3 linked regions of the Homo sapiens genome follow. The protein of the gene in region 2 purifies or fractionates together with the protein of the main gene of each other region. This does not show direct contact. Each region holds a gene or a part of one and is shown on either strand. Other genes may lie near its edges.

Region 1 (7,853 bases), on a different chromosome or scaffold from region 2:
GTTACCAGTAGCTCCTCTCATTCTGACACTGCTGGGGCGACTTATGAGCTGGGCATCTTGTCTGGTCTCATCACCGTTATTCCTTTCATCTATTTCAAGGCCTGACACCACTCTGTGAATTACGTGGACAATGGCTGTAGCAGGCACTGTTAAATGTCTTACCAAATTTAACCCTTGCAACAACTTTATGAAGCAAGCCTATGATCCTCATTTAACAGTGAGGAAACTGAGGCTTGGAGAGGTTGGGTAGCTTTTGAATCTTAACCTGGAACTCTGTCTCTGAGAGGTGTATGTTTATCTAGAATTCTACTTTGGACCCCTCTCCGCGCATCCCCAAAGGTCACGTTCCGTTCTGAGTCAGTTTTTTGCTTGATGATAGTAAACTTGCACAAATAGGCTGTTGGTCAGGGAGTGAACTAGCTGGAGCTTGGTCTTCTGCAAGCTTGGTCTTCTGCATGCTTGGTCTTCTGCATGCTTGGTCTTCTGCATGCTTGTTCTTCTGCATGCTTGGTCTTCTGCATGCTTGGTCTTCTGCATGCTTGGTCTTCTGCAAGCTTTGTCTTCTGCATGCTTGGTCTTCTGCATGCTTGGTCTTCTGCATGCTTGGTCTTCTGCATGCTTGGTCTTCTGCATGCTGCAGCTTACCCTTAGCAGATGTTTGGTTTATTGAGTGAGCTGGAGCAGGGGTAGAAACTGACCTTTAATGACCCGGAAGACTGGTTATCTTGTAAAAATAATCCACTAACATCTTGCAGGTGTAATTTCTTGTTTTAAATTTTTCCTCTGTACTTTCTCTTCCAGGTTCTTGCTATGCACTAACATACAATACACATATTGATGAAGATAATACTGTTGCCCTGCTACCAAATGGTAACACTTTATTTTTTCATCTTTCTTTAATTGTTAAAAAAAAATGCATACTGTAAAAAAAAAAAAAAAAAAGTCAGCTGGGCACGGTGGCTCACGCCTGTAATCCCTGCACTTTGGGAGGCCAAAGCAGGTGTATCACCTGAGGTCAGGAGTTCGAGACCAGCCTGGCCAACATGGTGAAACCCTGCCTCTACTAAAAATACAAAAATTAGCCGGCGTGGTGGCTCATGCCTGTAGTCCCAGCTCCTTGGGAGGCTGAGGCAGGAGAATCGCTTTGAACCTGGGAGGCGGAGGTTGCAGTGAGCCAAGATTGCGCCACTGCGCTCCAGCCTGGGAGACAGAATGAGATTGTCTGAAAAAAAAAAAGAAGATATTCAAAAGAATGAGTATACCATGACTTATTTATTTCATCTTTAGTAGAAATTCAGATTATTTTAAATTTCACTATTATAAATAATATCCTTGGATGTATAATGTATAAATAATATCTGTTACAAGACATGTATACACATAAATAATATTCTTGTGATATAAATAAGATCCTTGTATGCAGTTTGTTACATTGATATCTAACTGCTCAATTTGCCTTGCTTTCTTTTAGTCAGACAACGTAAGTTCTAGTTTTGGTATCTTATGGGAGTTATTATTTGATTTATAGGGAAATTAATTTTGTCACTGGATAAAGACACTTATGAAGAAACTGGACTTCAGGGTCATCCATCTCAGTTTTCTGGCAGAAAAATTATGAAATTTAGTAAGTATCATGTGTGTTCCATCTGTTTCTAATCTTCTTGTGGCAATTTAAATTTAAATGTTTGAATTGCCTCTAATCTCTTTGTTCAAAAAAATGTGGCCTTTTAAAAAAAATCTGTCAAACTTCTGACTCGAGCTTCACAGAGGATAGGATGATGCTTTTAAGTTCATTTCTTTTCAGCTGTAGATGCATTTAATAAAGATTGTAGACTTGGACTGGTCAATTAAATATATATGTTTCGGGTTAAACCTTGGCAGGCCAAGGCGGGCGGATCATGAGGTCAAGAGATTGAGACCATTGTGACCAACATGGCGAAACCCCATCTCTGCTAAAAATGCAAAAATTAGCTGGGCGTGGTGGCGCATGCCTGTAGTCCCAGCTACTCAGGAGGCTGAGGCAGGAGAATTGCTTGAACCCGGGAGGGGGAGTTTGCAGTGAGCCAAGATCGCACCACTGCACTTCAGCCTGGCGACAGAGTGAGAGTCCATCTCAAAAAAAAAAAAAAAAAAAAAAAAAATTCCAAGTACTGAACCCAAGATAGGAGTCTACAACTTATTCTTAATAAAGAATTTCCTTTGGTTTCCCCAAGTCTTTATGATTACTAGTAGAAATTCACCCATGAGTGAAGAGATGTTTTGCTGACAGCGTCTGGCTCGAACATCAATAGCTAAGGCCGCCACATCCATAAGTAGATTAAACCTGACCTCTCAAGGTCCTCTGCCCTTGGTCTTTGACCTAGGAAACATATAAATTGAAAATGTCTGTTTTTATTAGCTCTCAAGGTTAGAAGTGCCCACCAAAGGGATCTTATTTATTTGGCAAACCAAAGGGAGTGGAAGAAGAATAAAATAATTTTACTATCCATAAAATTTCCCAAAATTCTAGTTTTTAAAAATGTAACACTTTTTCCATGGTAGAAGCTGTACGTATATGAATGAAATATATGTTCTTTTTTTCATTTTTAAAGTTGTTTCCATTGATTTGATGGAATTATCCTTAAACTTGGATTCTAAGAAGTATGAAAGAATATCTTGGTCTTTCAAAGAAAAGAAGCCATTGAAATTTGATTTTCTTTTGGCTTGGCATAAAACAGGTATGAGGAATAAATTATGTAATGATACAGTGATTTTGAAAGTAATTGTTAATTAAAGAGGAGTAATGGAGGATTGAATGGTGATTCACTCTTTAGTCAAGGAATATTCTATACGTATATATAAAAATATTATTAAGGAAACTAGCCCTTCTGACATCTCTGAAAACCATAGTTCAGGATCATGTAGGCACGCAGGCCTTTCTGCCTGCGTCTCTTTGGGTTATATGTAGATCCAGAGATCTTGAGAGTGGCTTCAGAGCAGCTAAATTTTATCTATTTCTCCCCTTTCCTCTCTCCAGCTTACCTTGAACAGCCTTGACTATAATATTTTTAAGTAGCACCAATTATATACACAATCTGCTTATTTATTATCACAGGGTACTGACTCAGGCCTACCATTAAATGTCAGATGAATTTATTCTAACTTTTAATTGATTAGGACACTAAATTTAGTTCAAAGTTTGCTATTCACCACACAGCGTAATCTGCCTAAAACGGCCATGTATGTTGCTCCTTTTAGAAGTGTATCTTTGACCCAGATAATAATGGATCAAGTCATCAGGAATTATGGTGTAGTACTCTCTTTTGGAGGATAGGAAGCATGGTGGTCTGTTTTAGAAATAGCCCCATCTGTCTGCTCCTCATGGGAAGTGTCTCGTCACTGGGTGCTCCAAGTTGCTCCCATGAGTCCTAGGTCTGGCCTTCGGTGCCTCTCCTTCCATATATGGTAGATAGAAAAGAGGGCAGAAAGGCTTATTGAAGTTTCAGTTGCGTGAAGTCTTCTATGCAGATCATCCAGACGTTGGATTCTGGATAGCTCCCTATTCCTAAAGCTCCTAACTATTTTAAGGATTTGTCAGGACTGTGAAAGTTCTGAGATTTCCTCATACTTGCAGGCTAACTAGGTAGCCTGCTACAGTCTCAGGGATGCTGGCAGAAGACACATAAGCCCTGGGTCAGAGACACAGGACTTAATTCCTCAGAGGAATGGTAGTAGCCAAAATGTATTAGTCAGGGTTCTCCAGAGAGAAAGGACCAATAGGATGGATGGATGGATGGATGGATGGATGAGAGGAGATTTATTAGGGAAATTGATCATGCAGTTATGGAGGCTGAGGAGTCCCACGACAGGCTGTCTGCAAGTGGGAGACCCAGGGATGCTGGTAGCCTGGCTCAGTCCAAATATGAAGGCCTGAGAATCAGGAAAGAAGATGGTATAATTCTCAGTCCAAGGCCAAAGCCTGACAACCTGTGGATCTGCTGGTGCAAGCCCCAGAGTCCAAAGGCTAGAGAACCTGGAGTTCTGCTGTCCAAGGGCAGGGGAAGAAGGGAGTCCCAGCTCCAAGGGACAGCGAATTCACTGTTCCTCTGACGTTTTGTTCTACCTGGGGCCCTAGCCGGGTAGATGGTGCCACCCACAGTGAGGGCAGATCTTCCCACTCAGTTTACCCACTCACCTGCCAGTCTCCTCCAGAAACACCCTCACAGACACACCTAGAAATAATGCTTTACCAGCCATCTAGATGACCCTTCATCCAGTCAGGTTGACACCTAAAATTAACCATCACACCGAATATCACCATTTGCACCAGTTCACCAAGTCCCATTTCCAGAGTGACACCAAGCGATGCTGGCACATGCAGTAGGTTGCATTACAGGAGAGGAACCTGGAGTTTAAGAACTCCAGTCCTTTGTAAGGGACAGTAAGCCTGCTGATATCTGCCCGGAGAGAGGGAGGGTGACATTATTTCTATTATACTGGACAGTAAGCAAGCCTGCCCTTTGCCGTGGAGGGAGTACTATCTCTGTCTTCCAAGGCCGTTGGCTACACAAACATCCCTGAAAAGATACGCTGGATTTTATTGGGTTTTCAAAGTCAAGCTGGGATGAGGTTCAATCACCATTCAGTTTCTCTTCTTTTTCTTTAATAGAGGTTGTGCAGATAAGCTCCTTCTCTCTGGAGTTCACTAATATTATTCATACATCAGGAATGCTTTTGGTTTTAAGTGTGAAGTTGAAATTTTTTTATTAGCACAAACAGTGAAACTAGTTTGGGTCTGATCAGAAACTGTTGTGCTTTTCCAGGAAAAGTGTGAAAAACGATGAACGTTTACAGAACTTGAGCAAAAGGAGCTGAAAGCAGCTTTAAATGATTTTAATTTGAATGCAGCTCTGCACAGCTTCCATCTTACTCAATCTTACCGCTCAGATGGGAATGGGTGGGTTCAGGTATTCACTAAACTTGCTTACGATGGTCAGATGGATTCAAATGGCCTTGTGTGGTGTGTTTTTAAGGTTCAGAAGAATCGACAATGATGTCATATTTTTCCAAGTACCAAATTCAGGAGCATCAGCCAAAAGTAGCACTGAGCACGTTGAGAGATCTCCAGTGCCCAGTGCTGCAGAGCAGCGAGCTGGAGGGAACGCCAGAGGTGTCCTGCCGGGCTCTGGAGCTCTTCGACTGGCTCGGCGCCGTCTTCAGTAATGTCGACCTGTGGGTATCTGAACTCCCTGTGTCTTCCAGGGCTCTGGCCTGCTGCTTGTTTTTAATAGGAGTTTAATACTTTGGAAGTGATCATGTGATGGATATACATGTGTTATCTCTCTCTCTTTTATTTTTTTGGTGACAGAAATAATGAGCCTAATAATTTCATATCAACCTATTGCTGTCCTGAGCCAAGCACAGTGGTGGCAAAAGCTTATTTGTGTACAATCACTGGCTTCATACTTCCAGAGAAGATCTGTCTCCTATTGGAACATCTCTGGTGAGAACTCTTTACCTTTTATATCGCTCATCAGTGCTCTATAGAACAGTATGTCGAATAGTATAGATTTTTTCATTTTGGGAGGTGGTATATAAATAAAATGTACATTGAAAGGAACTCAAATCGCCTATTGCAAAGACCGTACATTGAGTATAATCCTATTTAGTAAGCATATCTTCTCAGTCTTCCCTTTTGAAATGTCAGATTTAAGTCTTGAAGGTTTTCCTTTTTAAGCCCAACATCCTTTTTCACATTTATTGGTTTAGTACTTTGACTTTCTTCGATAGGAAGGCTGGATATGAAAAATCTGGTGAATTATCCTGCAACGTTTCAGTTAACTGAGACTCTGAGAACAGTACTCTTAATAGGAGGGAAAGGATCCTTAAACGCCTGTGGGGTTTTTTGTTTTGGGTTCTTTTTGTCTTAAAGACCTCCCAGAATGAGGGTGGGAACAGCTGAGGTTTGTTTCATGTGTTGTATATTAGTTAATCCTTATGGAGTTCACAGTGTGACATCAGGAACTTATCACACACCTCTTGATTTTCAAAAATTAAAGCTAAGATCTAAGCTTTATTAGAATATCAGAAATACTACTTATCCTGAATAAATTTTTTAAAATGCAGACATTCCTAACTCTCTTTTAAAACTCTGTTTAACAACTACCTTTTTTTCAGTCACTACTTTGATGAACCGAAGTTAGCTCCATGGGTTACACTGTCCGTTCAAGGCTTTGCAGACAGCCCTGTTTCTTGGGAAAAAAATGAACATGGTTTTCGAAAAGGAGGAGAACATTTATATAACTTTGTGATTTTTAATAATCAGGACTATTGGCTTCAGATGGCTGTTGGGGCAAATGATCACTGTCCACCATAAAAAATAAAAATTAAAAATCGTGTTTACTTACATTTACGCTTGCTTTCAGATTTCTTAATGGTAAAAGGTCTGTGTGTCCACTCAGGCTTGTGTGATGGTGACATTTCTCAGATCAGCATTTGCTGGCATCCTGCCCTGCACCTGAGACCCATCTGTGATGGCAGCAAGGCCTGCTGTCCAGTGAATAGCTCATAGTTGATTTCTCTCTGTCAACATAAGCACAGGGTTGTGGGTTACTATGTGGTACACTGGGCCAGGATGTCCAGGGACCGGGGATATTGGTCCCCATCTCACTCCATTGGTTGAGATATATTTTGTTCATTACAACTTTTTCAGATAATAAAAAGAAATCTCATCCTTACCAGGGCCAGTCCCTGTTGTAAGTGCTGTTTATATATTACCATGTTAGAATCTCACACCAACCCTTTGAGGAAACTGAGGCACAGTGTGTAAATACACTACCGAAGTTATAGTGGCAGTGGACCTGAGACTTGATCTCAGGCCAGCCTAGTTCCTAAGTGTGTTCTCACGCTAATGCCTCTGGATCAGAGAGGGATCAATGGATACTGTAAATCGTTACAGAACAGGTTGAAAGAATTTTATTTCCAGCAGTAAGGCTGATAAGGACCAGTTGAAAACAACTAAAACTTTAGAATACATATGAAGAACCATTTTTTTTTTATTATACTTTAAGTTTTAGGGTACATGTGCACAACGTGCAGGTTAGTTACATATGTATACATGTGCCATGTTGGTGTGCTGCATCCATTAACTCATCATTTAACATTAGGTATATCTCCTAATGCTCTCCCTCCCCCCTCCCCCCACCCCACAACAGGCCCCGGTGTGTGATGTTCCCCTTCCTGTGTCCATGTGTTCTCATTGTTCAATTCCCACCTATGAGTGAAAACATGCGGTGTTTGGTTTTTTGTCTGAAGAACCATTTTTTTAATGTAAAAAACAAGAGCTGCAAAATAAGAGTTCTTAAAGGGAAAAAAAAATTTTTTTTTTTGTAAATGGAAGCAGAAACCCAAAGAAGTAAGTGGAGTACTGACGCCACTTTTCCGCCTTAGTGCATCTGCCAAATGCCAAATTGAAGTTTTCTTCTCATAGCCTGGGGTGGGAAGGGGCTGCAGAACAGCACACAAAGCTCAGGGCCTGCCCAAGGGAGGAAAACTAACAGGAGACCTCATAAAGTGAGACTCCAAAAGGATAGATGCAATGTAGGGGTAAACTAGGAATAAATCCATCTGCTTCACCCATCCCCCCAACCCCTGTGAACAGCAAGGAAGATTTCTGTCCTGGGGGAAAACATCTTACTTGAGAGCCTATATATAACCACAGGATTTATATATAACAGCAGTTTTTAGGGTGGCTTGTTTGCACCACCTGGATAGTCTTAAAAAATCTCAAGAGGGAAATTTCAAGTGATAACAGGATTTTACTGCCTTACAGGTAACTGGCAGAAGCAAAACAGATTGTCTTTGGAGGAACTCGG
Region 2 (8,032 bases):
CTTCATCTTAATGAACTAGGAAGGTCATTTTCTAGATGGCTTTGCCTGAATAAGCCCACATACGATACTGTGACCTTTGATGGGAGGAGCTAGCATGTGATGTTAAGGCCAAGTCCATGGAATGGACAGCAATGCACAACAGATAATTCCTCATGTCTCACGACAGTGGTAAGATTCCCAGTGGCTGCTTTGGTGAGAGCTTTTAATTGGGGTTCTTAGGAACTTGTATTATTATTTAAACCAGAGTGTGAGCTCCTAGAGAACACCGGCTGTCATGGTCCTTTTTTAAGTACTCCACTATCTTGCGTATAATGAGTCCTCCTTACAGTTTGTTGAGTCAATAAGTACATGTTGAACTTAGCATATCAGGGTACAGCATAGGGGACCTGGCCAAATTCTGCTCGTTGTTAGTCACCAGCTGGATGTCCACATTCATCAGGAAGTATATGCCGTGAGGGAAGTGGGGCAGTGGGGCAACATGAGGAGGACAGTGGCACTCAAGACAGTTGACACCAGGACACCCCACCCCCTGATTCCATTGGGAAGTTCAGGAAAGCTCCTTTCGTTTGATGGGCATTTTTCGCTTAATTCCTACATTTTTCAATTTAAGAATTCTGAAAAGTAAAAAATTCTGTCAAGTGAGAGGGATATGCAGTTTAACATGGTGTCTGCTTTAAAAAAAATCTGGTGTGAACATTTTGCATATGTTGTTTAATAAAAACTAGATGATGGAGTGGAAAGAAAGGCTGCACAAGATTATTTTTAGTCTTCATCTAGTAGAAGAGTAGGCTGCACTGTGAATTGGTCAGGAAGCAGAAGAGTCCCTGTTAATTTATTCACCTATTTTTTATTAAAGAGAGAAAGTTGGAAACATACAGGTGTCTAGCTTGTTGTTCAGAGTAAATAATAGTTGTGGCATAGGTATGTATGTATTATTTGTAACATAATATCCAGTCTGGCTGTGGAGCTGTTTGTCTACATAAAGTATGGAAATGTATACATTGTGAGAGCACAGTCTTGGTCCTTGCATGTTCCCTTGGCTTTGAGTGTAAACTTGTTTTTGGCCTTGAGAAGTTCATAGATTGGCTTTAAAAGGATCACTTTATAAGGATTACTTTTTTTTTTTTTTTTTTTTTTGAGACAGAGTCTCGCTCTGTCCACCCACGCTGGAGTGCAGTGGTGTGATCTCGGCTCACTGCAGCCTCCGCCTCCTCAGTTCAAGCAATTCTCCTGTCTCAGCCTCCCAAGTAGCTGGGATTACAGACATCCGCCACCACAGCTGGCTAATTTTTTTTTTATTTTTAATAGAGTTGGGGTTTCATCATGTTGGCCAGGCTGGTTTTGAACTCCTGACCTCAAGTGATCCACCCGCCTCGGCCAGGATACTTTAAATTAAGCACAGATCTTAATTTTGTCACGATGTGGGCCCTTTTCTTTGGTTGTGGTGAAAAGCAGTATTAAGAAAGGTAAATCATTCATCTTTTACCAATAGGCCAGATGCCATGTGAGAATCATCAGCTTGGAAGGTTGGGATTGTGAAGGAGGGCCCAGGAGCTCTATAGCATACCAAACACTCCATTTGTGTACTTTGCAGCTCTTTTCCCTTTTGTCATCTTCACTGTATGCTTAGGGCACCATAATTTCAATTATGCAATTTCCTCTAAAATCTCCCACAAACCTCTTCTGGAGTCTAAGTAACTTGTCATCGCATTTCTGTCATGTGATAGATGTGTTTCTAAAAAATTGGATTCCACTCCTTTTCTTGAATAATCACATGACTTCAGATTATTTAGCATTTTATGACATAAGCAGTTTGATACCTGCTTTGGCCCAGCAGTTTTGGGATGGGGTAGATGTTAATTATCTCCATATGCAGGTAATACAGTAGAATCTTAGGTAGTTCATGGTTCACACAGTTAAATGACTCTCTCAAGGGGTTGACAAGGGATTTGTACTCAAGCTTTGATTCCAAATCTGCTGTTATTTCCTACTGGGAAATGCTTTTTAAAGTTACTTTACAGCAGAACTCTTTGTTAAGCACAGAGTAATTTCATATTTTAAAACATGAGCTTTATGAATTCAGGTTGTGAGAAGAAGGATGTTCTTAAAACAGCACGTATCTCTTTACTTTCCCTTTGATTTTTTTACAATGTTATTTCCATTTCAATGTTATTGTCACTTAACAATGACTTCAAGCTTATTGAGTTATTTTAAGGGATCTTATATGTTTTACACTCTCTCTGATGTTTTCCCCTCAGTCCTTCCTTTAACCCTAATCCATTTCTGTCTTCGTGGTCCGATTACTCCCCACTGAGAGATGTTTAGTAAGTAGTATCTAAACAGTGAGGTAGTTCCATGAATCATGCTATAAATACTTGATTTGGATGTGAGTGTTCTGTAAACTTTGTTTTATCACACATGAATCTAATGTGTTAAGTACTGTGTCCATTCAGTGCCAGCAAATTGTGCCAGTATTAAAAATTTCTGTGGAAAAAAAAAATGCAAACAACACCAGAAACAAGGTTAAAAGACAGATGACAAACTGATGGAAAATTTTCACTCATGTCATAGACAAAATGCTTATTCCCTTAACACATAAAGACCAAAGAGTGCCTAGAAATTAATAAGTTAAAAAAAAAGATGAACAATACCAAAAAATGGATTAAGAATATGAAAAAGGCATTTCACAGTAAAGGAAATGCAAACAGGCCTTAGACATATGAAAAGATGATTAAATTTATCATAGTAAGAGATTTCACATTAAAATCACCTGTGTGATTAGAGATACACTCTGTTGTAAGGCTGCAGGAAAGCAGACATTCTCATATTTTGCTCGTAACTGTGTAAATGAGAACAGTCCCTATGCGGAGAGTGGGTAATTTGGCAACAACTATTCAAATTACAAATACGTTTACTGATTTAAACAACAGTTTTAAACTGTATGATCTCACAGTTCTGAAGCCTGCAAGTCTGAAATCAAGGTGTCAGCATGGTCTTGTTCCCTCTGAAATCTATAGGACCACCTTCCTTGCCTCTTTTTAGCTTTTGGTGATTTTCTGGCAATCTTTGGTAATCCTGGGCTTGCAGCTACGTAACTCCAGTCTCTGCCTTTGTCTTCAGTGTGTTCTCCCTGTTTGTCTCTATGTCTTCACATGGCCATCGTCTCATAAGACACCAGTCATATTGGATTAGGGGCCTACCCTATTCCAATCTGACTTCATCTTAACTAATTACATCTACAGTGACCCTATTTCCAAATATAAGATTACATTCTGAGGTACTGAGGTTTAGGGCTTCATTGTATCTTTTGTGGATGAGGACGCAATTCAACCCATTATGCCTAGCAATCCCACTTTAGTGTTATTCTACAGATACACTGAAACCACCCAAAGGCTCTCAGTAGAGGTTTGGTTAAATACATGCTATACCTCTACAATATGATACTCTACAACTGTAAAACAGAGGAAGTTATGAGCTGACTTGGAAGAGCTTTCATGTCAGGACAACAATGCAGCAGACTACCTTTTGGATAGGAAAGAAAAATAGTATCTCTTCGTATTTGCTTATAGTTGTATGAAGAAACTCTGGAAGAAGACACAAGAAATTAATAAAAGTGATTATTGGAGGAAGGGATAGGGCAGATAGGATTGGAGATGCAAGTAGTACTTTTTATTGTTTTCTTATGTTGCTTTGTGAGTCATGTGGACAAATTACCTGTCTTAAACACTGAAAGGGTTTCATTCATTTGAATTGAATAAAGAACTAATTTTTATGAAATTAACAGGGAATCAGTATATTGTCCCAGTAATCAGCTCCTTACTTTCTTCTCGTCTTTCTCTAAGGCTTTGCTTAATACTTGGAATTTTAGTACCAATGTATCTTGATTCAACTGTCACACACCTGTCCTTAGTAGCATCTTTATGACCATTATTTTTCATTAGTAAAGAAATGTGATCATCCACCCATGCCAGAACCTTTGGTCAGACATGAGAACAAAAGCTAATCAGGCAGGCACTGTTAGGAAGAGGCTGTTAGGAACAATCATTTGATGAGCTTTAGGCAATTTGCATCAAAATGGTCTTACAGCAAGATCCCAGGTAATGAGTCTGTATTTTATCCATCTAAAAATTTAAAATAAGATGCTATGAAAGAAATATTCACAACCTTCAATAGCACATTATTTTTAATTTTTCTTTTTCAAGAATTCCTATAGCAGTTTTAAAGTGAACTTGATTAATGTACCAAGATGAAAATCAGAACTTTTTCCTTAAAAAATAATTATGCTGATAATATCCTTTTTTTCTCCCCTCCCCCCGCAAAAGTTGTTTTTATTTTGATTTGGTACCCACAAGGGTCTAGAAATTTAGATTCAGTCAATTAGGAATATTTCGAGATCTAAGCATCCAACTCTATATATCATTCACCTCTTTCATTTATTTCCCCTCTTCATCATCCTGTTGCCTTGTATTATCGTTCCACAACTAGAAGGATAAGGAAAAGAAATACAGGTCAGCCTCTTCAGCTAATTAGTAGTTTTGGTAAAATATATAGCCAAGGAGATGGCTGATAATATGGCTAAAAGGGATGTTTTTACTTATCTGTGGTTTTTGGTTAGCCAGGTGCACCGAGGTTCCTTTGATGATGGATCATCTATAATGAACAACGTTATCACAGGACATCTTCTCCATAAGCTGCTATTTATTCACTCAAAATATAAATATATTATACACCTTTTATGTAAAAGGCAGTCTAGCTCTCAAGAAGTGTGCAAGCTTGGCAGAGCCAATGAGATACACGTTCAACTAGGACAGAAATACTATCTTAACAAATGTCATTCCCAGAAATAATCAACACAGGTGAAAGAATTAGAGATGGGGAAAAGTCAAAAAATGAGAGAGGGAAAGGTTGCAGTGTGGAAAATAGCATTTAAATTCTAACCAAACTAGAATCAGACATATAGGAAAATCTAAAATAAAATCTGGGAGCCTTGAAGCCGGAGGAAGAATTAAGGAAATCTGTGTTCGGGAGGGAAAAGCAGAAGGGGCCTTCAAGTACAACTGAATTAAATCAAGATGGACTGCCAGTTCTAGAAAAAGACAAGTTTCTCCATTCCCCGTAAATGCTCAGGAGTAAACCCCAGTAGTCACAGCTGGGCCAGTCCCAACTTATACTCTGGGCAATCGAAACTCATTTGCCAAGCAGAGACTTGGACCATACTGCCTAGAACATGCCTACCATTCTTTCTTTATTCTTTTGAAAGAGTACTGCCACTCAAGTGACTTTTGCAATTGAGAGTCTGATTATCATCTCTATGCTGAAAATCCTTCAGATGTTTTCTCCATTAGGAATAATCCTCATCACCAGCTCTAAAGGCCTGCACAGTTGGCCCTTCCCATCCTCTTTAGCCTGTCTTCCTCATTATTTTTCTCCAGCATTTGACCTTCCCTACGTGCTGCCATGCTGCAACCTTGAAGACTTTTGCATGCTCTGACCTCCCTCTGAAAGTGCACCTTCCTCTACTATTTAACTGCTTAATTTCTTCCTCAACCCTAAACTTCTCCTTGATAGCACTTAACACAGTTGAAGTTTTGTATTTTTGTGTGGTTATTGATCATCTCCCCCACTAAAATGTAAGCTTTTAGAAGGGAGAAACCATCTCAGCTTTTGCACGTAGTGGGCTTAAAACATCTTTTGTGAATGGATGCAGACATTTAGGTGCTCATTAGGAAAGCTGAACAGTATGGTGGTTAATTTCAATATCATTTCCACTCATCTACTTACCTGTGGATCCCTCTGTAGTAAGAGTACATTAAATAAAGAAGTTTCTGTTTCTCATGAAAAAAGCCAAGCTTGTATGGTGAGCTGGGCAAAATCTTCAAGGGCACTTCCATCTTTTTTGCTGTGCGGCTATAAGCCCAGTGAAAAATCAGGGGCTTTATTACTAAAGAAAAAGGAGAGGACAGATATCTGGGCAATTTGCAGGCTTTGCAGTAATGCTTTATAAAGGTATTGTAGTAAGGATTAAATATTATATATAAGACTCTCTTAGCATATAGTCAGCACTCAATTAACTATGGCTGTTATTCTCTCTTCAACATATAGAGAATAAATTACTTACCTGAAAGACCTTCCTGCCCTTGGTTCTTTGGGCTTTTTTCAGCTCTTCATTTCTTTGTCTCTTTGTGCATTCATAGGTCAGATTACTTGGTTTACTATGTTTGTATACAGTTTACTGTAAATGTAGGGAGTACATTTCTGTTTTCCTTTTGATAGTTCATGGAGTAGTAGCCCCTCTCTCACGCCATTGGGACTTTGTTCTTCTTAGCCTCTTCATAATTCCTGTTTATGTAAAGTCAGCTTCCCCACAGCCAAGTTAAACTCTCTTAATCAAGTAGAGCCACGGATTTATTTTCTTCTCCTTGTGGGTGGTGCCATTTGAGTGTTGATCTGTCTTTCATAAAGCTGTACCTTGACATGTAAGGGGTCAGTAGTAGGGAGTGAGGAGGGATGTGAAGAGAGAATCAGTGAAAATGAAGTAGGCCAGTGCATGCTTATCTCTGACAGTTCTCTTTATTTCCTGTGAAGGCGATTGACCGAGGCCTGGCTTTTGAACTTGTCTATAGCCCTGCTATCAAAGACTCCACAATGAGAAGGTATACAATTTCCAGTGCCCTCAATTTGATGCAAATCTGCAAAGGAAAGGTATGGTTCTATAATTTTAGGATGTTTTTCGCATCTGGCAGTTTATTATTAGTAGTACACTGGAATTGTCAAACTGACTCCTTTTCCTTAAAGCAGAATGTTCTCATAGCATAGGAACAAATTCTGCCATTTCAGTGAGCTCTGCAAATTTTAAGGGAAAGAAAAATACCAAGGGAAGAATAATGTAAGGGAGAAAAAGATGTGTTGGAAGCCATATCTTTTGATAAAAATTTGCAATTTACATACTGTGAAAGAAAAGTCTAGAATAACAATGGTCCTCACTGAGTTGAATTAAGATATGTGACCTTTTCATCTTGTTTTTTAAACTTAATTCACCTTTACTAAGATCTGTTAGGAAAACATATTTTGTTTTTTATTACAGATTGCCTTTAGTTTGACATGAAGTCTTTTCATTTTTTTCACCTTAATTATTTACCTTATCTTTAAAAGAAGTTGGTATTTGAGCCTTAAATGTTAAAATATGATTACTGGCTATTTATATTATGAAACTCCTTTTTTTACATTTATCTAAGATTAATATTAGTCACTTTCTATTTTGTAGAATGTAATTATATCTAGTGCTGCAGAAAGGGTAAGTCTAGCATGAAGTACTTTGTTTTCATCTTTCAGGTTATAAAACTTTTCAGTTTCTAGGGGATAAATTAAAATAGTAAATGAATATTTGTTGCATTTTTTTCTATTTTAACTGCATTTGCTCATTGTAATTGCTAAATAGTAAAATTTATCCCCACTTTCTTTAGGCTTCAACTTTTGTTTATATAATCAGTTTTTCTTTTATACTGTTACAAAATGCCTTTCAAGCTTCTCTTATATTTTCAAAAGCTATGAAACCCATCAAAATTATAAGGACTTAAATTTATGTAATTTTTTTATTTTTGGATACTTAAATTTTCTATTAATTTGCTATAAGTCATTGAAATGTTATAAATAATTTTCTCATATCTACTCTTTGTTCATTTTATTTCAGCCTTTAGAAATAAGAGGGCCATATGACGTGGCAAATCTGTATCCTTTTCTGAGTAAAAAGTTGTTGACATTGTCTTTCAGGAAATTTTGAATTTGAAGTCGTATTATAGTTGAACATGTATTTTTCTCAACCTTTTACTGTAAGTTTACCAATTAATAACTTCAAAAATAAATTATATAACATTATAGAGAGCTTTATGCTTCTGTTTTTTAATTAATCATGAGATAGAAAAGAGGGAATGAGGGACTTCATATGATAAAAGCTTAGAGTTAAATGAGTCTTTTCTCAGATGCATGTTCCAGTTGGACTAAGAACTGCTGTTGAATTAATTAGCCTCTCAAG
Region 3 (7,962 bases), on a different chromosome or scaffold from region 2:
CACCTCCCTAAATCTATTTTTCTTCTGAATGTCATATTTCGAACTTAAGGTGAAAATCTGGAAGTCATTTGTATTAGTCCATTCTCACATTATTATAAAGAACTACCTGAGATTGGGTAATTTATAAATAAAAGAAGTTTAATTGACTCACAATTCTGCAGGCTGTACAGGAAGCACAACTGGGGAAGCCTCAGGAAACTTACAATCATGGAGGAAGGTGAAGGGGAAGCAGGCACATCTTACATGGCCAGAGAAGGAGAGCAAGCGAGCAAAGAGGGAGGTGCTACACACTTTTAAACAACCAGATGTCCTGAGAACTCACTATCATGAGAACAGCAAGGGAGATTTCTGCCCCTACTATCCAATTGCATCCCACAAGGCCCCTCCTCCAACATTGGGGGTTATAATTCAACATGAGATTTGGGTAGGGACACAGACCCAAACCATATCATCATTCTAGACATGTAAATATGTAAATAGGTTGAGCATCTTTAAACTGAAAATCCAAAATCTGAAGTGCTCCAAAATGCCAAACTTTTTGAGTACTGACATGATGATACAAGTTACCCTGAACACATTAATTTTCACTGTATTAATGGTATATCATTTTTTTTACTATTAAGCACATATGTGTGAATAAGAGAAAAAAATGGTTGCTTAACAGCAGCATATAGGCTGGGTGCGGTGGCTCACACCTGTAATCCCAGCACTTTGGGAGGCCAAGGCGGGCAGATCACAAGGTCAGCAGATCGAGACTATCCTGGCTAACACAGTGAAACCCCGTCTCTACTAAAAATACAAAAAAACATTAGCCAGACATGGTGGTGGGCACCTGTAGTCCCAGCTACTCGGGAGGCTGAGACAGGAGAATAGTGTGATCTTGTGAGGTGGAGCTTGCAGTGAGCCGGGATCGTGCCACTGCACTCCAGCCTGGGCAACAGAGTGAGACTCTATCTCAAAAAACAAACAAACAAACAAACAAACAAACAAAAAAACAGTAGCATATAAATTCAGAGTCAGGAATGATGTTGACACCAAACAACCACAGACTGTCCACATGGGTGATTGAGATGTACACAAACTTTGTTTCATGCACAAAATTATTAAAAATATTACATAAAAGTTTCTTCAGGCCATGTGTTTAAGGTAGATATGAAACATACATACATTTCATGTTTATACTTGGGTCCCATACCCAAGATATCTCATGTATATTTGCAAGTATTCCAAAATCTAAAAAAAACCGGAAATCTGAAACAATTTTGGTCCCAAGCATTTCAGATAAGGGACACTCTCCACCCATGCTAGACATCTAAATAAGTCATACTGTCTATATCCAGTAGAAATGCTTGAAGGTTTGGGTCTGCATCATTTCTGGCCTTAGCTTTTGTAATAGAACAGATGGGCCTGGTCTCCTTACTTCCAACCTCTTCTCTCCCAAATCTGTTCTCCAGGGTGCTCTTCTTCTGAGGCAAGCTGACAAAAATTGCTCTGCCTAAGACTCAGTGAGTGACTCCTTTATCACCTATAGCAAGGACACGTCAACCTAGAGTACCATCACAAAGACCTTTTCAAAACAGACCTACTCAGAACTAATGAGTAAGAATTTTCAAGTGGGACCTGAAAATCTCTATTTTTAAGTTATCCAGGCAATTTTGATAATCAGCCAGGTTTCTGAACTACTGGTCTTCAGGTAAAAAGCCAAATTCTTCCCATGATCTGACTGACACCACTATTCCCAGCTCCACCCCTCAGCACAAATCACGTCCCAGCAGTACCAACTCAGGACTAGTGATTCTTCAAACCCATGCTGCTTAAAACCTCTCTGTAGGAATATCCTTTTTCCTTTAACTGCCTGGGGAGTTCCTATTCATCCTTCAAAAGACTCTATTCAAGCATCATCCAACCTCATATACAGCCAGTAAATATCTACTGAGGCCCTACTATATGCCAGGCTCTGAACTAAGCATTGAGATAGAAAGACCAGTTAGCTATGTCAATGGTAGTTCTCGCTTTCAGTAGGTTCATATGCCATTGGAGAAATAGACATGAAAGTAAACAAAGAAATACAATAAAGCGAGGTAAATTCTGTGAGAGAGGCTGTGGTAGGCTGAATAAAGATCCCTCCACCTCCCACCCAAAGATGTTCACATGCTAATTTCCATAATCTGTAAATATGTTACCTTGCACTGAGAAGGGATTTTGTAGCTATATAACCTTGAGATTTCAGCTGCTTGAGATTTCAGCACCCCAGCATTTTTGTGTGTGTGTGTGTGTGTGTGTGTGCATGAAATAATGAAAATTTTGAACAGGCCCTTGCTTGCTTGTACATGTTAACCACTCGCTTTTTGCCCAGTATTCCTTGTTCCCACAATGTAATTATAAACTGCTGATGTACTGTTTCTTTGTCAAGCAGAAGGAGATAACTTCAGGGTCATAAGAATAGTTTGCAGAAGGAATGAATTCCTGGAAGGACATTGCAACCAGCTGCCATGTACATACGGCTGCACAAGGTGTTACCTGAAATGGAAGAAACACAGACTTTTCCCTTGGATTCCTTGAAACTCCCTCTCCATTACTCTCTAGCTCCATAAAAACTCCCTGCTTCTTTTTTGTTACTGTGGATCTGAGAGATCTTGCTCTCTTGCCCTCTAACTTTGGTCAAATCGAATAAATATTTCTCTGTCTCCAAGCACCAGTATCTCAATATTTGGCATCAGCTGCCCATCGGGTACATGAGCCTGAATTTGGAGTTCTAAAACAGATGTGATTAAGTTAAAGATTCTGAGATGGAGTGACTATCCTGATTATCTTGATGGGCTCAATGTAATCACAAGGGTGTTTTTAAGAGGGAGGCAGGCAGGAGGGTGAGAGAGACAGAGGAAGAGGAGGAGACTGAAAAATGTCATGCTGACAATGAAGGTGGAGGATAGTGAAATGAGCCAAGGAATGAAGGCAGCCTCTAGAAGCTGGAAAAGGAAAGGAAATGAATTCTTCCCTAGAGATTCCGGAAGGAACCAGCCCTGCCAACTTCAGTCCATTGAAATTAATTTTGGACTTCTGACCTCCAGAAATGTAAAATAACTTCTACTTATTTCAAGCCATTAGGTTTGTCGTAATTGGTTACAGCAGCAATAGAAAACTAATACATAGGCCAACATAGGGCACTGTGGTAACACATTAAAGGGGCCTCTGTATCAAGTTATGGAGTGAGGACGGGGTGTTTAGGAAGAATTACCCCAAGTGACGACCCCAGAGCTGAGGAAAGGAGATTGTGTTTCCGAGGATGACCCAGGTAGAGTAGGTAGATGTGTAAAGGCGCACAGAAAGAGCATGGAAAGTGTTTCAATAAAGTAAGACTGCTTGCATGAAATAGTAGTAATAACATCAACAATATTAACTATGGTAAATGTTCATTGTTTGTATGCCAGGAGTGCCTTGGCATTTTACAAGTCTGTGAGATTGATACTATTATTATCATCTTCATTTTACCCACAGGGATACTAAGGTCTGGAGGAGGAGGTAAGTAAATTTCCTGAGATCACCGAGCTAGTAAACAGCAAAGCTAGAACTAGAACCTTGGCAGTCTGTTTCCAAAACTCACTGTTTTTCTAATACGTTACTGTGGGAGTGTTAAGAACTTAAGGGGGCATTAGCATGGCTGAGGATAAATGAATTATTAGAAAGATATTAATGAGGTAAGGATCACTAGAGCTTGGAATATGATCTTGTCTTGGAGACTGACAAAAGTGGGAATGACTGACAGGTGTCTTCCAAGTTTCTTTGATGTGATCTCGGTTTTGCTGTGGTTCAAGACATAAAGGAGCCTTCCTTTACCACTCAAAGCAAATCACTGCTTCTTCGCTACAAATTCCACACCTTGCACAAACCTCTTCATTTCATTTCTTCCTTTTTCCCCTAATGTCTGAGGCAGAGTTGGGGGTAAAAGCACCAACTCAATTCTGGGCCTCATTTTCCATATTTGTAAAATGCCTAGAAGTATTTAACAGTTCCAAACTTGGTTGTGCTTCCGAATCCCCTGCGCTAAGTTTAAACAAAACGCAGATTCCTCATCGCATTCTCAGAGATTCTGTTGGTTAGTATTGGGATGGGGCCTTTTTTCCCCCATGATTCTACGCGGCCACGTGTTGGTAACCAATATACAGATGACTGGGTCCTTCCCAGTCCCACGCGTTTACTCGATGAAGGCAGCCTCCCGCCGGGCTCCTGGCCCCGCCCGAGCCCCACCCCCTGCTCCCTTCCGGCCCGGACTGGGTCCCATCGCCCCACCTCCGGTCGCTGGACGTGCTCTCGCGTAGCTCCGCCTTTCGTAAGTCCCCCCGCCTCGCATGATGGCTGCGGTGCCGCCGGGCCTGGAGCCGTGGAACCGTGTGAGAATCCCTAAGGCGGGGAACCGCAGCGCAGTGACAGTGCAGAACCCCGGCGCGGCCCTTGGTGAGTGAGGCGCCGGGCGAGGATGGGGGAACGTTTCCGGGGGAGGCCGCCAGGCCCAGCCGGCGCATGTGGGCGGGGGTGGTACCGGGACTTCCCGGCCCGGGGGACGCTGGGAAGGGGCGCGGGGCACGTAGGGGTCGAGCGGTCCCAGCACTTTGCTGGTGTAGCTTGTAGGGCCTCTGGCTTCGCATTCCTTCATTGAACCAGCTGTGCTAACCCAGGGCTTGGCTGGAGAGATGAAAGACCAAGGCTCAGCCGTGCGCTGAGGGGGCGGAGAGAGGTGGACTCAGCTGGTGCCGGGGAACAGTGCTGCCTGGGAACCCTTGCTCACCCGGGTCTTCGGAGTCTTGTTTACCCTTCCGTCCATTTCCCCTTTCCTTCTTTTTCCTGTACCCGAGGAGCGGTGGACGTCACCTAAGCACTGGGACTCAAACTGCAATCTTTTCGGACCTCTATCTGCTTATCTGTGAAATGGAGTTAGTCCTCCTACTCCTCACAGGGGCGTTGGGAATATCTAATGATGTAATTTAGGAGACAGTGCGCTGTAAACGACGGTGTTTTGCCACCTAAATGGGTGGTATTTGTTAGGGTGAAGGGCATATAGTAGGTAGGAGCCTGGCGCAGGAGCCAGGTTGTTTGGGTTTGAATACTAGCTCTACCCTTTGCTGGAGCTTGAAGGAGTCATTGAACCTTTCTGTGCCTCACTGATCTCACTTTCAAATGGAGATAAAAGCACCTTCCTCATAGGGCTGTTTGGGGGGATGAAAGAGTTGATAATGTAGAGAAAGCATTTGGAACACTGCCTGGCATGGTAAATGAACACTCAAATGGAAGCTGTTATGAATATTAAATACGTAGCTCCGGGGCCCAAGGGAGAGAATACAGTCATGGGTTCTTTGTTTCCGGTTGGGCTGGTAAAGCCCTTTCCTCATCCCTCTTTTCACTAGAGACAAACTAAAAACCATGGCTTTAAGCTGCAAAAAGCCTAAAACAAAACAGAACAGAACAACAAAATAAGGCGGGTTGGACAAGCTTGACTTAGATCATCACATCCCCTTTCCCATATATCCATCCTACACACTTTACAGATTATCCCATCTATCCTTCCTACACACTTTACAGATTAATCTTCCCTCTTTCTCTATTCAAAAATTCTTTAACAACTCCTATTAGGCCTGGGAAATTCACCAACTCACTACCCATCCCCGAGGCAGCCCATTCTGTCTTCAGGTAGTTGTTGGGACAGTAAGAAAATTCTTGTTAGGTAGCAACCAGCCTTTACTTCCATTTAGAATGCTAGTGCTGCCTTTAGAGCCATAAATAACACATGAACTACATCTTAGGGACTTCTACAGATTTTCAGACTAGGAAGCATCTGCTGATGAGCACCCGGTGTTCATCAAATAATACGATTTCCAGTTACTGTGGTGGTTTTTCTTTTCTGAATATGTTTGTGTCTCTCATAAAGTGATATCCAAACACAGAAGCCTTGATTTTGAAGACTGTGAATTTATTCATTCTGTCTTGCTTTCGGGCATAGCGACATGGGGAGTTAGAGAGTTATTACACATGTTGTGACATGTGCCCTACCTTCAAGGTGGGGGTTAAGTGTACACATGAGGCGTAAGTGTACACCAAATGACTGACAGCAAAGTATTCATATGAAAGATTATTAAACCATGATAAAATGCAATGCAAAGATACAGCTTCTTGTTTTACAGATGTTCTCTTAATGATTTCCTGGACTTTATATCATCTGTTACCATTTTCCAACTTCTCTTATACTTAGAATCCTTACGTTCTTACAGTTGAGACTGATTACATTAGTTTTTGATTCCTTTAAAACAAATAAGGAAAGATGCTTTTTTTAGTGTGTTTTTAATATAATATACTTACTGTAGAAATACATACTAAATCTTATTAGATGTCTCTGCTTCAGACCTTTGCATTGCAGCTGTAATTAAAGAATGCCATCTCGTCATACTGTCGCTGAAGAGCCAAACCTTAGATGCAGAAACAGATGTGTTATGTGCAGTCCTTTACAGCAATCACAACAGAATGGGCCGCCACAAACCCCATTTGGCCCTCAAACAGGTGAGGAAGCCCGGTAGGTGAGACCCAACCTGTTCACTTGAAAATGTAGATCACACTGCCACTTACTATATTGCTATTTATGGAAATCTCGTGGAAATCTCAGTAAATTACTTGTGTTTTATAGGCCTATAGCCCACAGTTACATGTGCACTTTCTTTTTTTTTCCTAAAAGCATTTCAGCATTTCAAAAAGTAATTTTTGTTAGAAAAGAAGTATGTTTAGATTCTTTCCCAGTCTTGTTTCTAATAGGCAAGTAAACATTTTCTTCATTATATACAATCTATAACAACAGTGCCTTTGCCCAGCTCAAAGATAAAGTGATTTGAGCAAGACAAAATGTTGGACATTAAGAAACAGTTCCCTGGGCATAATCAGAATGCTAAAATTATTTTTAAAAAAACTTGTCTACTTATTATGGGGTACATAATCTAATTGGTGGTATGTTAGAGTAAATGGGTACATAGCAAGTTGTGGTGTAAACTGGTTTCATGTAATGTTTGGAGCTTAAGACAAAATTGGGCCCTCCAGCTCAGGGGCTATACCATAGAGTAGAGCCTCTCTTAAGCTGGCTTCCTGATATGCTCATTCATTCATTCACTTAATTCTGCAAGTATTTTCTGGAAGTTCAGAAGGCTATCCATTGTGTGACAGGGCTACCTTGCAAGTGTTTTTGAACTTTCTGTGTGCCAGGCATTCTGCTTAGTGCTGTGTATAGAGGAGTGAAAAAGGTAGACACAGTCTCTAACCTTATAGATGCATGCTTTCTGGTTAGTTTTCTACCCCTAGTACTTAAAGCAAACAGGGTGAAGATTTCATCAAAGAAAGATCTGGGACCATGGTCTTTCCCTAAATTTTCCATTCTAGGGTGGCTTTTATCTTTTTCGGAGTCTTTTTGATCCAAAAGCAAGCTTGCTAACCCTCAAAGTGAATATATTTCTCCTTCTAGCTTCTGGGTTGTGAATAATCACCCCGTCATCAAAATTTGGCATTCTCTAGTCTCTCTCTCTTACGTAGCTCTCCCATCCAGGCAGTCCATAAGACAAAACTTCCTCTGCATCTGGTCCCCTCTTCAGTTCTGGCTGCCATTTTCCTTTCTTAGACCTTGTCAACTTTTAGTTGTCTTACTATCATAACTGATGTTTCCTCCTTCAGCTTTTCCTAAGTTCTGGCATATTCTAAATATTAAAACCAGGTTAATCATCTGAAAACACAACTTTGATTTTTAGTCGTTCTCCATTGTGTCCTGAGTAAAGACCAAACTTCTTAGTTTGGCTTACGAGATCTGTGATCTGGCCTCTTCAGTCTTCTTAGTTCGGGCTTCTCTCTTGCGTTCAGATAGATTATATTCCAGCCAACCTGGACTCAACACACCTGCATGCTCACTATGTTTGTTCCTGCTTCTGAGTCTGCTTA

What was found.
Region 1: the proteins of RPP30 (region 2) and RPP40 purify together in Homo sapiens (affinity purification with mass spectrometry; 4 studies listed by BioGRID and IntAct, with this or other methods). This does not show direct contact.
Region 3: the proteins of RPP30 (region 2) and RMP64 purify together in Homo sapiens (affinity purification with mass spectrometry; 4 studies listed by BioGRID and IntAct, with this or other methods). This does not show direct contact.

The regions. Positions count from the first base shown.
Region 1 is NC_000006.12:4,993,580-5,001,432, reverse strand, and holds the end of RPP40 (ribonuclease P protein subunit p40), read left to right. Parts: intron 1-801; coding exon 802-870; intron 871-1,528; coding exon 1,529-1,624; intron 1,625-2,591; coding exon 2,592-2,717; intron 2,718-5,012; coding exon 5,013-5,211; intron 5,212-5,347; coding exon 5,348-5,482; intron 5,483-6,156; coding exon 6,157-6,355; 3' UTR 6,356-6,716; downstream 6,717-7,853. UniProt on the Homo sapiens protein: Component of ribonuclease P, a ribonucleoprotein complex that generates mature tRNA molecules by cleaving their 5'-ends. Also a component of the MRP ribonuclease complex, which cleaves pre-rRNA sequences.
Region 2 is NC_000010.11:90,888,190-90,896,221, forward strand, and holds part of RPP30 (ribonuclease P protein subunit p30), read left to right. Parts: intron 1-6,585; coding exon 6,586-6,702; intron 6,703-7,264; coding exon 7,265-7,294; intron 7,295-7,690; coding exon 7,691-7,728; intron 7,729-8,032. UniProt on the Homo sapiens protein: Component of ribonuclease P, a ribonucleoprotein complex that generates mature tRNA molecules by cleaving their 5'-ends. Also a component of the MRP ribonuclease complex, which cleaves pre-rRNA sequences.
Region 3 is NC_000003.12:113,016,035-113,023,996, reverse strand, and holds the start of RMP64 (nucleolus and neural progenitor protein), read left to right. Parts: upstream 1-4,325; 5' UTR 4,326-4,349; coding exon 4,350-4,455; exon of another isoform or gene 4,456-4,479; intron 4,480-4,587; exon of another isoform or gene 4,588-4,931; intron 4,932-6,394; coding exon 6,395-6,549; intron 6,550-7,962. UniProt on the Homo sapiens protein: May play a role in cortex development as part of the Notch signaling pathway. Downstream of Notch may repress the expression of proneural genes and inhibit neuronal differentiation thereby maintaining neural progenitors.